Linked DNA regions of Homo sapiens. The protein of the gene in region 1 interacts with the protein of each later gene in a pairwise test. Each region holds a gene or a part of one and is shown in the gene's direction. Other genes may lie near its edges. The genes, in order: CGRRF1, SCAMP4, UBE2U and LAPTM4B.

The links.
Region 2: the proteins of CGRRF1 (region 1) and SCAMP4 interact in binary tests that used the Homo sapiens proteins (3 or more experiments, as listed by UniProt).
Region 3: the proteins of CGRRF1 (region 1) and UBE2U interact in a two-hybrid assay, tested with the Homo sapiens proteins (one large-scale study listed by BioGRID and IntAct).
Region 4: the proteins of CGRRF1 (region 1) and LAPTM4B interact in binary tests that used the Homo sapiens proteins (3 or more experiments, as listed by UniProt).

The regions. Positions count from the first base shown.
Region 1 is NC_000014.9:54,516,347-54,519,913, forward strand, and holds part of CGRRF1 (cell growth regulator with RING finger domain protein 1), read left to right. Parts: intron 1-3,567. UniProt on the Homo sapiens protein: Able to inhibit growth in several cell lines.
Region 2 is NC_000019.10:1,918,874-1,922,440, forward strand, and holds part of SCAMP4 (secretory carrier-associated membrane protein 4), read left to right. Parts: intron 1-15; coding exon 16-117; intron 118-3,567. UniProt on the Homo sapiens protein: Probably involved in membrane protein trafficking.
Region 3 is NC_000001.11:64,202,240-64,206,477, forward strand, and holds the start of UBE2U (ubiquitin-conjugating enzyme E2 U), read left to right. Parts: upstream 1-1,383; 5' UTR 1,384-1,811; coding exon 1,812-1,877; intron 1,878-2,301; exon of another isoform or gene 2,302-2,544; intron 2,545-3,399; coding exon 3,400-3,481; intron 3,482-4,238. UniProt on the Homo sapiens protein: Catalyzes the covalent attachment of ubiquitin to other proteins.
Region 4 is NC_000008.11:97,817,228-97,820,794, forward strand, and holds part of LAPTM4B (lysosomal-associated transmembrane protein 4B), read left to right. Parts: intron 1-1,912; coding exon 1,913-2,011; intron 2,012-3,567. UniProt on the Homo sapiens protein: Required for optimal lysosomal function. Blocks EGF-stimulated EGFR intraluminal sorting and degradation.

The DNA.
Region 1 (3,567 bases):
AATTCTTTTAGCTTTTGTTATGTTTGAAAAAGTCTTTATTTTGCTTTGGAAAAATATAGGTATAGAATTCTAGATTGACAAGATTTTTTTCCTGTTAGTTCTTTAAAGATATTCTGCCTTCCATTGCTTCTTATTAATATTAAAAAGCTACTGACATTCTTATCTTTGTTCCTCTATGTGTAGTATATCTTTTTTTCCTTTTCTTTGGCTACCGTAGCATATCTTCTTTCTTTTTCTTAGGATTTTCTCTATATTACTGGTTTTAAGCAATTTGATTATTATGTGCCTTAGGTAATTTTCCTTGTTTCTTGTGCTTGGAGCTCATTGAGATTCTTGGGTCTGTAGGTTTTTATAGTTTTCAACATGTTGGGGAAGGTTTTCGCCATTATGTGTTCAAATACTTTATCTGTCCTCTGCAAACTTCAGTGATATGTTAAGACTTCAGTTACATGGCTGACTAAAAGTTGGCTTACTGATGCTTTTTGTTGTTGTTGTTGTTCAGTCTTTTTCCTTTCTGTGTTTCAATTTCAGTACTTTCTGTTATGTTGTCTTCAAGATTACTAATCTTTTATTGTGCAATACCTAATCTGCTGTTAATCTCATCCACTATATTTTTTATCTAAAACATTATCTTTTTCATCTCTAAATATTGATTTGGGCCTTTTAAATATCTTCCATGCCTCTATATCATATGTGCAGTCATTACTTTTCTTCTGAAACATATGGAATATAGTCCTAGGAGCTATTTTTATATCCTTGTCTACTAATTCAAGTATCTGTATGATTTCTGGATCTATTTCTATAGAGTTTTGCTCCTCATTGTGGGTACTGTTTTCCTGCTCTTTGCATGCCTGTTAATGTTTTTTTATCAGATGCTATACTTTGTGAATTTTACCTTACTAGGTGCTGGATATTTTTGTATTCCTCTAAATATTCTTGAGCTTTATTCTGGGTCACTGTTAAGTTACTCAGAAATAGTTTAGTCTGTTAGAGGCTTGCTTTTCAGCTTTGTTAGGCAGGACCAGAGCAGTCTTACCCAACTCTTTTATAAAATCAGAGTCATCAAAAGTGAATTTTTATTTCATTTGTTAATTTTATTGGTTATCTTTCAGTGTTAGACTTGTGTGTTTTGAAACTTTAGTTTTCAACCTAAATTTTAGTGGAAGATTCGTTTTGTTTTGTTACTTTTCTCCCTTTGTTATCACCCTCACTGTTTATCCACTTTGCAATTATTATTATTATTATTATTTTTAGTTGAGTATTTTATTTTATTTTTTCCTTCAACTTTTAAGTTCTGGGGTACATGTGCAGGATGTGCAGGTTTGTTACATAGGTAAATGTGTGCCATGGTGGTTAGCTGCACAGATCAACCATTCACCTTGATATTAAGCCCAGCATCCATTAGCTATTCTTGATGCTCTCCCTCCCCCAGCTCCCACCCTGATGGGCCCCAGTCTGTGTTGTTTCCCCTCCATGTGTCCATGTGTTCTCACTGTCTGCTCCCACTTACAAGTGAGAATATGCAATGTTTGATTTTCTGTTCTTGCATTAGTTTGCTGAGGATAATGGCTTCCAGCTTGACGCATTTTCCTGCAAAGGACATGACCTTGTTCCTTTTTATGGCTGCATAGTATTCTGTGGTGCATATGTACCACATTTTCTTCATCCAGTCTATCACTAATGGGCATTTGGGTTGATTCCATGTCTTTGCTATTGTGACTAGTGCTGAAATTAATATATGCATGCATGTATCTTTATAATAGAATGATTTATATTCCTTTGGGTATATACTCAGTAATAGGATTGCTGGGTCAAATGGTATTTCTGCCTCTAGATTTTTGAGGAATTGCCATACTGTCTTCCACAATAGTTGAACTAATTTATATTCCCACCAACAGTGCAAAAGTGTTTCTTTTAGGCCAGGCGCAGTGGCTCATGCCTGTAATCCTAGCACTTTGGGAGGCCGAGGTGGGCAGATCACCTGAGGTCGGGAGCTTGAGACCAGCCTGACCAACATGGAGAAATCCCGTCTCTACTAAAAATACAAAAAAAAATTAGCCAGGCGTGGTGGTGCATGCCTGGAATCCCAGCTACTTGGGAGGCTGAGGCAGGAGAATCACTTGAACCCAGGAGGTGGAGGTTGCGGTGAGCTGAGATCATGCCATTGCAGTCCAGCCTGGGCAACAAGAGCGAAACTCCATCTCAAAAAAAAAAAAGAAAAAAAAAAGTGTTTCTTTTTCTCCACAACTTTGCCAAGATCTGTTGTTTCTGGATTTTTTTAATAATTGCCATTATGACTGGCGTGAAATGGTATCTCATTGTGGTTTTGATTTGCATTTCTCTAATGATCAGTGATGTTGAGCTGTTTTTCACATGTTTGTTGGCTGCATGAATGTCTTTTAAGAAGTGTCTGTTCATGTGGTTTGCCTACTTTTTAATGGGGTTGTTTTTTTCTTGTAAATTTGTTTAAGTTCCTTGTAGACTCTGGATATTAGACCTTTGTCAGATGGATAGATTGCAAAAACATTTTATATTCATTTATACCCAGATTCCTAGACCTCCAGACCAGGACTAGGTTTTTGTTGTTTTGTTTTGTTTTGTTTTGTTTTGTTTGGGACGGAGTTTCACTCTTGTTGCCCAGGCTGGAGTACAATGGCATGATCTCGGCTCTCTGCAACCTCTGCCTCCTGGGTTCAAGCAATTCTCCTGCCTCAGCCTCCCAAGTAGCTGGGATTACAGGCATGCACCACCATGCCCAGCTAATTTTTTTTGTATTTTTAGTAGAGACGGGGTTTCTCCATGTTGTTCAAGCTGGTCTTGAACTCCCGACCTCGGGTGATCTGCCCACCTTGGCCTCCCAAAATGTTGGGATCACAGGCGTGAGCTACTGTGCCTGGCCTTTTTTTTTTGAGACAGAATCTCTCTGTGTTGCCCAGGCTGGAGTGCAGTGGCACAATCTCTGCTTACTGCAGTCTTGACCTCCCAGGCTCAAGCGATCCTTCCACCTCAGCCTCTTAAGTAGCTGGGACCACAGGTGTACACCACCATGCCCAACTAATTTTCCATTTTTTTTTTTTTTTTTTTGTAGAGATGGGGTCTCGCTATTGTTGCCCAGACTGGTGTCGAACTCCTGGGCTCAAGCATTCCTCCCTCCTCAGCCTCCCAAAGTTCTGGGATTATGGGCAGGAGCCAGTGCACCCAGCCTAGGACCAAGTCTTATAACGACAGTTCTGCGTATTTTTGTATTGACCTAATCCAGCTCCTGGTTCCAAGTTATAAACCTGGCTCTGGCCCTTGTCTGGAGAAGACAGCCTATGCTGGTCTCCTTAGTACATGAAGGCTTGGTTGCCACTGTCTGCTGCCAGACTGAGAACCATGAAACCATGGCATAGCCTTACTCATTACTTTGTTTCTTTGCTTTTTTTGGATCCATAAAGGTATTTGTTCCCAGCATTTTATTATAAAAATTTTCAAACATACAGAATACTAGAAAGAATTACACAGTGAACACACATCTGCCCATCACTTAGATTCTACAATCAGCATTTTACTGTAATTTCTCTATTA
Region 2 (3,567 bases), on another chromosome or scaffold:
TCTGTCCCTCCCCAGAGCCGACAGCTCCTTTAATTTCATGGCGTTTTTCTTCATCTTCGGAGCCCAGTTTGTCCTGACCGTCATCCAGGCGATTGGCTTCTCCGGCTGGGGCGCGTGGTAAGCCTCTCTCTGATGGGCGTGGTGGCTGTGATGTGGCTCAGCTGCCAGGTTGTGGGCCTGCTGGGAAGCCAGGCGGCCACCGGAGCGTGCTGGTCCGGGATTGTACGCGCTCTCCTAGGGAGGGGTCTGAGCTCACCCTGGCAGCGCCCGCGTCCTCGCCAGCGCCCGCGTCCTCGCCAGCACCCAGCCATGGTTCGCGATTGTAGGCACTCTCCTAGGGAGGGGTCCGAGCTCGCCCTGGCAGTGCCTGCGTCCTCGCCAGCGCCCAGCCAGGCTTGTCTCCTGAGTGTTGATCACACCCCTGACCCGGGGTCTGGGAGCCAGTTCCTGGCTGCTGATGTTTCTGCACGGATCGCTGCAGGAGGAAGACCTGTACATCTGTAAAAACACACATACCTGGTGCTGTTACCACACCTGAGAAACTCACAGTCACTCTCTAAGGCTGCCAGGTGCCCAGAAGTGTTTGTGTTGGTGTCTTAAATTTCTGCCTTTTTTCTTTTCTTTTTTTTTTTTTTTTTTTTGAGACAGAGTCTTGCTCTGTCACCCAGGCTGGGGCGCAGTGGTGCAATCTCAGCTCACTGCAACCTCCACATCCTGGGTTCAAGCAATTCTCCTGCCTCAGCCTCCCGAGTAGCTGGGACTACAGGCGCCCGCCACCACGCCTGGCTAATTTCTTTTGTATTTTAGTAGAGACGGGGTTTCACCGTGTTGCCCAGGCTGGTATCGAACTCCCGAGCTCAGGCAATCCGCCTTTCTCAGCCTCCCAAAGTGCTAGGATTACAGGTGTGAGCCACTGCACCCGGCCCTTTTTTTAAACTATTATTATTTTTTTTTGAGATGGAGTCGCTCTCTGTCACTCAGGCTGGGGTGCAGTGACATGATCTTGGCTCACTGCAACCTTCACCTCCCAGGTTCAAGCGATTCTCCTGCCTCAGCCTCCCGAGTAGCTGGGACTACAGGTGTGTGCCCCCACACCCAGCAAATTTTTGTATTTTTAGTAAGAGACGGGGTTTCACCATGTGTTGGTCAGGCTGGTCTGAAACTCCTAACCTCGTGATCCACCCGCCTCGGCCTCCCAAAGTGCTGGGATTACAGGCGTGAGCCACTGTGCCTGGCCAAATTTGTGGCTTTTTAAATAGGCTTTTTATTTTGGAATAATTTGTAATTCTCAGTTGCAGAGAGTGACTGTTCTCGCCCACGTCCCCGACGTGTCTCCCTTGTCCTTGGCACGGCGGGAGCTCCCCACGGGTGACGCTGCTCACGGAGCCGTGGGTGCCTTTGGTTTCCTGGGCTCCCATTAGCAAGCTCCTGTTCTGGGGTTCCTGCCCCACAAGACTGCGGTACTCTCACGCCAGTGCACAGATCAGAATCCAGATAAGGTCCCAGGTTTCCTGGGATGGTGACTCCTCTCCCTTCAGGGCCCCTCGATCTGCAGGCCTCTCCCCTCCTGCACCTGCGCCTGGCGCCAGGCCCTCCAGGGTGGCTGGGATCTGTGGTTTGTGCACCCCTCGGATGTGCCGCTGAAGCTGGTCTGTCACCTGCCACCCCAAGAGCCTGAGTGACGTTGCCCCAGGGATCTGAGTTAGAGTCATAGTGAGCGTGTGCCTGGGACTCCCAGCTCTGCCAGCCTTTGGGGTGCTTCCCCCTCCTGCAGAGGCTGTGGCTGCAGGTCAAGGCACTGCTCGTCATCCTCCGAGTCCTCCTGAGCTCCCAGCTGCCAGCTCGGCTCCCACTGGCCCTTCCCTGGGCTCCAGTGCCTCCTGTGAGCCGCCTCCCCGGTGCGTCCCCAGCTCTCCCAGGCTGAGCTGGGTGGACAGGCCTGTGCCCGTGTTGGGTGGTCCTGAGATCCCGGCATGAGGTGAGTGCCCACATGTGACCCTCAGAGACCTCCCTGCCCCCTCGGCCCTCGTGCACGTGCGGCAGCAGCGACTTGGCTCTTCTCATTGGAGCCTGGGTCATCTCCCGCAGGTCACGGGAGAAGCTGAGCATGCGGTCCCTGCCCGAGGTGGACAGAAGGTGAACGCTCTTGAGAAAGAAACCCAGCGGGTCTTAGGAGAGCCCGGCCCCCCTTGTAATGAGAGAAATCAAACCACAGCGCACAGCGACTTCATGTCCACCGTTGGCTTAGTGAGGCCCCACGCTCAGTGCGCTGCTGTGGGGCGAGAGGGGACAGCCCCGCTCTCCCTGTCCTGGGCGGCTTCACCAGCGCCACCTCCCCACACACTCTGTGCACTGCTGTGGGGCAAGAGGCGACAGCCCCGCTCTCCCTGCCCCGGGCAGCTTCACCAGCGTCACCTCCCCAGGGGTGACGCATGCCCGAGGCCATGAGCCACGGCAGCATCTGTGGTGGCAGAGGACTGGAAACTCCAGAGAAATGACCCCCAGCGGGGCCTAGCTGTGTAGATGGTGAGGGTGGCCACATGGCGGCAGCCAGGTACTGAGGACACGGTGCAGCAGGGGCCCCCGGTGGGCCCCGCCAGGAATCGGACATCAGCGGGCGCCGCAGCCTCTAAGCGGAGCATGCAGCCCACTGACAGTGTGCTGGGTGCCTCCCTAGACCTGACACTTGCATGCGGGGGCGTGCGATGCTGGCCAGTGGGAAGCTGCGGGGGCGGCGGCAGGAGTCCTCAAATGCCTTTGCCGCTTTTCATAAATCTAAAATTACATCCAAACAGAGGTTTACTTTTTTAAAAAATAAAAGAGGCCAGGCATGGTGGCTGACGCCTGTAATCCCAGCGCTTTGGGAGGCCAAAGCAGGAGAATCACTGCTTGAGGCCAGGAGTTCAGACTGGCCTGGGCAACATAGGGAGAAACCATCTCTCCAGAAAAAAAAAAAGAGGAAGGAATGACCCAAAGACCATGCAGCCTGTGATGCTGTGGAGGCTCCAAGCAGGCGAACACAGGACAGGCCAGCATCTTGCAGGGACGCGGCGGGGGGTACCGCGTGTGCGTGCATATCACGCCCCGTGCATGTGTGTGCATAAGCTCCCCGGACACATCCGGGGGTGTGGGTCCTGCGGGCTGCCTGTGCACCAGGGAGGGGAGTCAGCAGGAGAGAGACTGTACGTCGTGCCTGCCTTTAAGTTCCCTGAATTTTAAACCCTGTGGTTTCATCACCTGTTAAGACAAAAATCTCAAAATGACTGTTTTCTGCCTCCTGGGTCTCAAAGGCAGGTGCAATGCCCAGAGGCTGGTCCTGCACAGAGGGACCCAGGGCGTGCTGGCCTTCCCAGTGTCCCACTGGTGGCTGATCTAAGCAGTGCTTTCCCTCGTTTTTTTATTTTGAGACAGAATCTTGCTCTGTCCCCCAGGCTGGAGAGCAACGGCACGATCTCGGCTCACTGCAGCCTCCCGCTTCAGCCTCCCAGATAGCTGGGATTACAGGCATGCGCCCTCATGCCTGGCTAATTTTTGTATTTTTAGTAGAGACGGGGTTTCACCTTGTTG
Region 3 (4,238 bases), on another chromosome or scaffold:
CTGCGAGAAACACCCAAGAATGATCAATAAAATAAATAAATAAATAAATAAATAAATAAATAAATCAGAGCATGACACTCTCCTGTTTAAACCCATTAAATGGATTCCCATAGCTATTCAAATAAAGCCCAAACTTCCTACTGTATAGTGCCCATCTTTATCACACCCCTCCCAGGCTCCTCCACAACCTCCCTGACCTTCCCTTGTTCCCTTTTCAAGACAAGCTCTTTCCTGACTCAAAAATATCTTGTTTTCCTCTTCCTAGAACTCTCTGCCCTCAATATTTCATGTAGCAGGCTCCTTCTCATCTTTCATGTATGAGTTCAAAACCCCATTCCTTACAGAGGCATTTCCTGACTACCATTTCTAATCCTTAATGACCTACCCCAATCTCTATCATGGTACTGTTTTATTATTGTCCACATAACGTTTATCACCATCTGAAATCATGATTTTTGTTTTGCATACTTGTTTATTGTATATTGGAGCCATAAAGACATTTACTTCATTTGAATCTTTCAAGTAAAAAAAAAGTATTTAATAAATATTTGTAAAATGAATGGACTAAATGAACATCCGGATTCTATAAAATTAGTAAGTAAAAAGTAAAAAAAGAAAGTATTCTGAACAAAGATGCCAGGCTTTGTAGTTGGCGCTGGCAATGGAACCGTGTCTTTCAGTAGTTCCCACTCTGGTGAAGACAATAGACAATTGTGATGCCGTATGGCAAATGTTAACTAGGAGGCAAATAGAAGGTCCTGTGGGATCACAAAAGAAAGGATCCCTTAAAGAGTCGTTAAAATCTGAAGGATGAGTGAGTGAAGGGGAAATGAGGGCTGAAGGGGTGGAAGGAATGTGGTAAACTCCTAGGTAGAAGGAACAGCAGGTGCGAAACTGTGCGGGAAGAGATGGGAATCAGAGAAATTTTAAGCAGTTCCCTGTTCCTGGAGCACTTTCCCAGGGTGATTGTAGGGTTTGATGACATAATAGCATGCACACTACTGTGAATGGTAACTCGCCATGTAAGTTAAGATATTGTTATGCAGACCTGTACCTACCAGTCACTTACTATATCTTTTGATAGTCAAAGAAAAAGGAAGGATAATTTCGAAGAAAGACTTCGTGGGACGGCTTCTGTGACTTACATGCTGGGTCCTGGGACCTCACCCCATCCTCTACACTAGTTTTGTACAGTCCATGTTCGTGGCCTGAGAAGGCGTGGTGTTGCCTTGACCACGAATCTCATTGGCCTTTCAAAGGGGAAACTGTTGTAGGATTGGCTGTGGAGATAGCAAGAGGCCTGCCCCCTGTCGCTGATTGGGTGAGAGCGGCCAACCCCCTGCCTCCGTCTCTCGGCGGCCCCACGGGGGCCTGTTGGTTGGCAACCGATTTGCTTCCTCCGGTGCGTGGCTGCGGGGTTGCACCTGTGAAGCGAAGACAACCTGCTAGGACCCTGATAGGCGTACACCTCTCACTCCCACTCACGCGCCGACGACATGGGCTTGTCTCCGTTACTCATCCAAGTTTGTCTTGAGACTGGGCTGTGAGCCGGCACTGCAGTGAAACGCCGCAGATGAGGAAGTGCCCAAGTCTTCCTTCGGGAAGTTCTCGTTTAGAGGAGTCAGGAGAAAAAGTCATTGTTATATCCCAACTTTAGAAGCCGCTTATCTTGGTACCGTTCTGAGGTTCTAGAAAGCAAGTAACTTATATCAGTTTACTAAGTGTGGGAAAGTGACCCATAACTTCAAACATCTGCCTCAGAGTAAACCTGAGGCATTTGGGGACAAGTGTCAGACCCTCCGCTGCCTATCATGCACGGCAGAGCTTACCTCTTGCTGCACAGAGACTTCTGTGATCTCAAGGAGAACAATTATAAGGTAAGTACTGGGCACGTGGAGAGATGTGTTTCATTGTGCAATAATTTTTAAGAGGCAGTTTAACCCATTTTATTCTATAAGTAGTAATTTAGTTAAACCTGATTTGCCACTACAGTATTGTTATTTAATAAATCCATTTCACTGAAGTAATGTGTTTCATATTAATAACAATTATTATTACTTCAAAATAATAATGCTTAACAATATTGAACATATTATGCAGAGTAATTTATGTGGATCTAGGCACTGAATATCAGGGTCTGTCATGTAGTTAGTGACTAGTAGGTGCAGGCTTATGCTCATTAATTATAATACTATACAATAAGTAGTATTTCATTTTACTTACCAAAAACCTAAGCCTCAGAAATATTCTGTAAAGATTTTGCCCCATGATTCCATTACAGGGTTTTTGGACTTCAAAGCCCTAGTTCTTAATTCCTGTGTTCCACTGCTTACTGTCTAGTGTACTTTTACCAGCATGACACATAAATGCCTTCCCTTTATAGTTTTAACACAAAAGAAGCAATGTCCTTGGGCTTAAACGCCACCAATGAGGTTATCAATGTCCATGGCTGCCACAGGCTGATTTACGGAAAATGAAAAATGGAAGAGGGGGCGAAGAGGGAGTGCTTAAGAGAAAGAACAGAAAGAAAGCTGTCCATGAAAGGTATAGAGTGCTTCCCACAGTTGCTTCAGGTGTAGTTCAGTGGCATTGTTCATTTTTTACCTCTGCTATAAAAGTACTGCATTCACTGGAGATGTTAGGAACAATTATGGAGTCCAACAGCGAACATTCCTGGGGCATGGACCTAACATTTGATATTGTTTCTGCTCATCCTGAGCTCTGTAGTTCTCTGTTGAAAGAGAATCCAATGAAGGAATATGTAAATATAGATAATAGAGAGACAGGGCTCACCCAGACAAGCACTAACATACTTAATAACTATGTGGATGCTCAGAAGTGTTTTTATGTGTTTGTAAGTGTGTTACTTAACGTAATTCATAAGGTTTTCTATGAAATACATTCTTGTCCCTCCATTGGAACAACTCCTCAAGTATAGGAAAACTTTGCTTTTATATACAAGTGTAATTTTGGATTTTTTCTTAATGAAAATGTTCCCACTTCATGCCTTTCATATAGCATTCATATAGCTCTAAAATGTTTTGAAGAAACATGCACTTTCCAACTATTTCTTTCTTTTAAAATTTGAATATTAAATTGGTTATTGATTTACACAAACAGTATATAAGCCACACATTCTAATCTTGACTCTCTAGTCCCACTTGTGATTTCCACACTTATGATTTATTTTTAATTACTATTGCATATGTTTTCTGGGATCTATATTAACTTCCGTGAAATAAGACATGTAACACTTCCCCAGAGCAGCAAATAAATAAACTTATCAAGGAAAGAAAATTTAGAGTTTTTAGAATTCAGTGTGACCTGGTATATGATTTTCAAAACTTCAATAAATACTTAATAAGTTTTTTCTGATTTAATTTTGTTTTTAACTTCAAGGGTATCACTGCTAAGCCTGTAAGTGAAGATATGATGGAATGGGAAGTTGAAATTGAAGGTCTACAGAATTCAGTTTGGCAGGGTTTGTATTTTCAAAACCAATCTATTTTTTAAAAAAGTCTTTATACCATTATTAGCCCATCCTCTTTTTATGTAGGATAAGGTCGCATTATATAAATTTCCTGAAATTCTTCTTCATATGCATAAGTTTGCATTATACCAGTTGTCTAAAATTCTAAAAATATTCCCATTTTTTTTATTTATGACTTTTTTGCCATGTGTCAACATAGATGGAAATTTGGGGTATTTTTCTTTATGCCAAATCTTAATTTTATTACATTTTTAAGAAGCAGACACAATAGAGCATATCAATTGAGAGAATATCGTCTGCCTTCCGTGAGATCAGGGAATAACTATCAAAATTCCTATTGGCTTCAAAACCCCACAGTTACTTCTCATTTTTTCCTTTATGATTTTCCCCCAAATTTTCATAAATCAAAAAATCTCAAGAACACTAAGCCACTATAAACTTTAATGCTCATGTTTTCTTTCAATTATGGATTAATAAGATAGATTCCTTGAGTGAGGTAGGGGAGACAAACACATCAGCTGATAATTACAATAAAATATACATTATTATGGATTTTGAACAGAATGCTAAAGAGGAAGAGGATTAGTTAATTATGCCTGAGGGAGTCAGGAATGTCTTCCCAAGGAGATCACATTTGAGTTGAGTCCTGAAGAATCTGCCAGGTTCAGAAGAAGGATAAGGAAATTCGGGCAGAGTAAACAGCACAGCAAAGACTTGTAGACAAGAAAGGGTGTAGCAGATTTTGGGA
Region 4 (3,567 bases), on another chromosome or scaffold:
CTCCCGTGATCCTCCCATCTCAACCTCTTGAGTAGCTGGCACTATAGGCATGCACCACCATGCCCACCTAATTTTTCTTTTTGTATCTTATGTAGAGATGGGGTTTCACCATGTTGCCCAGGCTTGTCTCAAACTCCTAGACTCAAGTGATCCTCCAGCCTTGGCCTCCCAAAGTGCTGGCATTATAGATGTGACTCACTGTACCAGGCCAACTTTACTTTTTTTTTTTTTTTTTTTTGAGACAGAGTCTCACTCTATCACCTAGGCTGGAGTGCAGTGTTGTGATCTCGGCTCACTGCAACCTCCGCCTCCCTGGGTTCAAGCCATTCTCCTGCCTCAGTCTCCTGAGTAGCTGGGATTACAGGCACCCGCTACCAAGCCTGGCTAATTTTTTGTATTTTTAGTAGAGATGGGGTTTCACCATCTTTTCCAGGCTGGTCTCAAACATTTAGCCTCAGAGGATCCACCCTCATCGGCCTCCCAGAGTGCTAGGAATACAGGCGCCCACTACCATGCCTGGCTAATTTTTGTATTTTTTTTTTAGTAGAGGTGGGGTTTTGCCATGTTGACCAGGCTGGTCTCGAACTCCTGACCTCAGGTGATCCGCCCACCTTGGCCTCCCAAAGTGCTGAGATTACAGGCGTGAGCCACCATGCCCAGCCTGCAACCTCAATCTTCTGGGCTCAAGTGATCCTTCCACCTTAGCCTCCCAAGTAGTTTGGACTACAGACATGCACCACCATGCCCGGCTAAATTTGTATTTTTAGTAGAGATGGGGTTTGACTATGTTGTCCAGGCTGGTCTCAAACACCTGCACTCAAGCAATCTGCCTGCCTCAGCCTCCCAAAGTGCTGAAATTACAGGCATGAGCCACTGTGCTTGGCCAAGTTATTTTATTAATAAAAGAGTAAAGTTGCATGATCTGATCACAAAGAATGACGATTTTATTTCTTAGATATTTTGTCCCAAGTGAAAGGAGACTGAAAACCATTAGGTGGTGTTCACCCTGGTGAGCAGGAGCCAAGCCCATGAGTCATGGGCCTTCTCCATGTTCTTCCTCAACATTGGAAACAACTTTGTTTTGGAATATTGCTCGTGAGGAATCCAAACACATAGTGTTGAATGGTGAAGGGAGATAAAAGATGAGATAGCACAGTAGGCTGCCTTCCCATTCACTTGCCTAGGCCAGTGATGTAGGCGTTGATCAATGCTGTGTGAGTGTTCTGTGGGGAAAGTCCGGCAACTCCCTCTAACCATAGTAGCAGACTTTGATCCTCCTGAAAAGGTTCCCTTTGACCTGGTTGTTAAGCATTGTGGATGGTAGTGCTTGATTATTTCCCCCCACCCTGGAAGTACTTGCTAGTATAAGAGAATATGCTGTCTTGGGAGAAGTACCATCAACAAAAATGCTCTTTGCAAAGAAGACCTCATTTTAGTAGGTTTCTGTCCCTTGCCCTGCATATGCCCTTTAGAATGGTTCAGAACTTTTGAGACATGGTCTGGCTCTGTCGCCCGGGCGGCTGGAGTGCAGTGGCATGATCTCGCTCACTGCAACCTCCACCACCAGGGCTCAAGTGATTTGCTCACCCCAGCCTCCCAAGTAGCTGAGCTGGGCGACAGAGAGAAACTCCATCTCAAAAAAGAAAAAAAAAAAAAAAAGGAATGGTTCAGAACTTGCAGAGAATACAAATTTCAGAGATCCCTGGATATACAAAATGTCCCTGGATACCGATCACTGACGTCTTTTATATGGTAAGAGGGCAGAGTCAGGCTAGAAATTTTGTATTGGTTCTAAATAATAGCTGTCTGCTTTAATCAGTTGCTTTCTGATAAGCATGTCTGAATTGGTGCCCAAGGAATACTGTCTGGAATGATTAATGAGATTTGCTAATGAGGCCCTTTTCTTTTGCAGCCTCCTAATTTTCCCTACAGAGATGATGTCATGTCAGTGAATCCTACCTGTTTGGTCCTTATTATTCTTCTGTTTATTAGCATTATCTTGACTTTTAAGGTAAGCATGAAGATTTTACTTATAGTCTAAAAATATTAAGTGTATTCCTGAATACCAAATAAGTAAACAAACTTTGGTCAGTTTATTGTCTTTCTTTGGACATCCAAATTGCTTTTTGATTTCCTAAGATTACAATTCTTTATGCTGTCTATGTTGGAGGTAAACACTAATCAAAATTCCACAGTTTGATCAAGGAGTCCAAAATATATTTGGACAGAGATAAGTTAACATAATGTTATACATTACATAGTATATGATATTGCAACGTCTGTTACAAGGTCTGTGTAATGGATATTCTTTTGTAATTTTTTGCTAAAAGTGTAATATTTTCTGAATATTGTTCTATCTCAATCCATTATATGAATATCATTATTTAATAAATTACTTGATGAGCATTGAGACATTTTTTACTTTTTCACTTAATAGGGCTGTAGTGAATATATTTAAGTACATCCTTATATTTATGCATTTATCTCAAGATAAATTTCCTTTTTTTTTTTTTTTTTTTTTTTTTGAGATGGAGTCTCGCTCTGTCGCCCAGGTTGGAGTGCAGTGGCGCAACCTCGGCTTACTGCGAGCTTCGCCTCCCGGCTTCACGCCATTATCTTGCCTCAGCCTCCCCAGTAGGTGGGACCACAGATACCCGCCACCATGCCCAGCAAATTTTTTTGTATTTTTAGTAGAGATGGGGTTTCACTGTGTTAGCCAGGATGGTCTCGATCTCCTGACCTCATGATCCGCCCACCTCGGCCTCCCAAAGCTGGGATTACAGGCATGAGCCACTGTGCCCGGCTTCAAGATAAATTTCTTAAAATCAGGGTGTTCATGGTTGGAAAGCCTTTGATAGGTTGTCAAATTGATGTCCCCCAAAGTTAAATGACTTCTACTTCCTGCAGCAGTGCCTCACCCTTATCAATCAATTGCTGCAAATTCTTTTTCATCTTGGTCAATCTGTTTATAAAACCATCATTATAACTTGTGCTTATGAGCTACTAATGGGTAGAAAACTCTCATGGCTCTTTATGCTTTCAACTTTTTTCTTTTTTTATTTATTTTTCTTTCTTTCTTTTTTTTTTTTTTTTGAGGTAGGGTCTCTCCCTGTAGTCTAGGCTGCCTCCTGCCTTGGTTTCCCAAAGTTTTGGGATTACAGGTGTGAACCACTGCACCCAGCATACTTTGAATTTTTGAATCTCAATGCCTTTCATTGTCTTAATTTTGGCATAAAATTATGTCATTCTTCAAAAATCATGCCTCAGTAAACTTGGGAAAGCTGCATTGAGGCAGAAAATTCATATAGGTACTGTGATGAAAAGGAGTAGAAAGAAAGTGGTTCATTGGAAACCAGTTGGCCAGGTGAAATGGCTCACACCTGTGATCCCAACACTTTGGGAGGCTGAAGTGAGAAGATTGTTTGAGCTGGGAGTGTGAGGCTGTAGTGTGCTATGATAGCAGCACTGTACTTCAGCCTGGGTGACAGAGTGAGACCCCGTCTTGTTGTTGTTGTTGTTGAGACAGAGTCTCACTCTGTCACCTAGGCTGGAGTGCAGAGGTGCGAT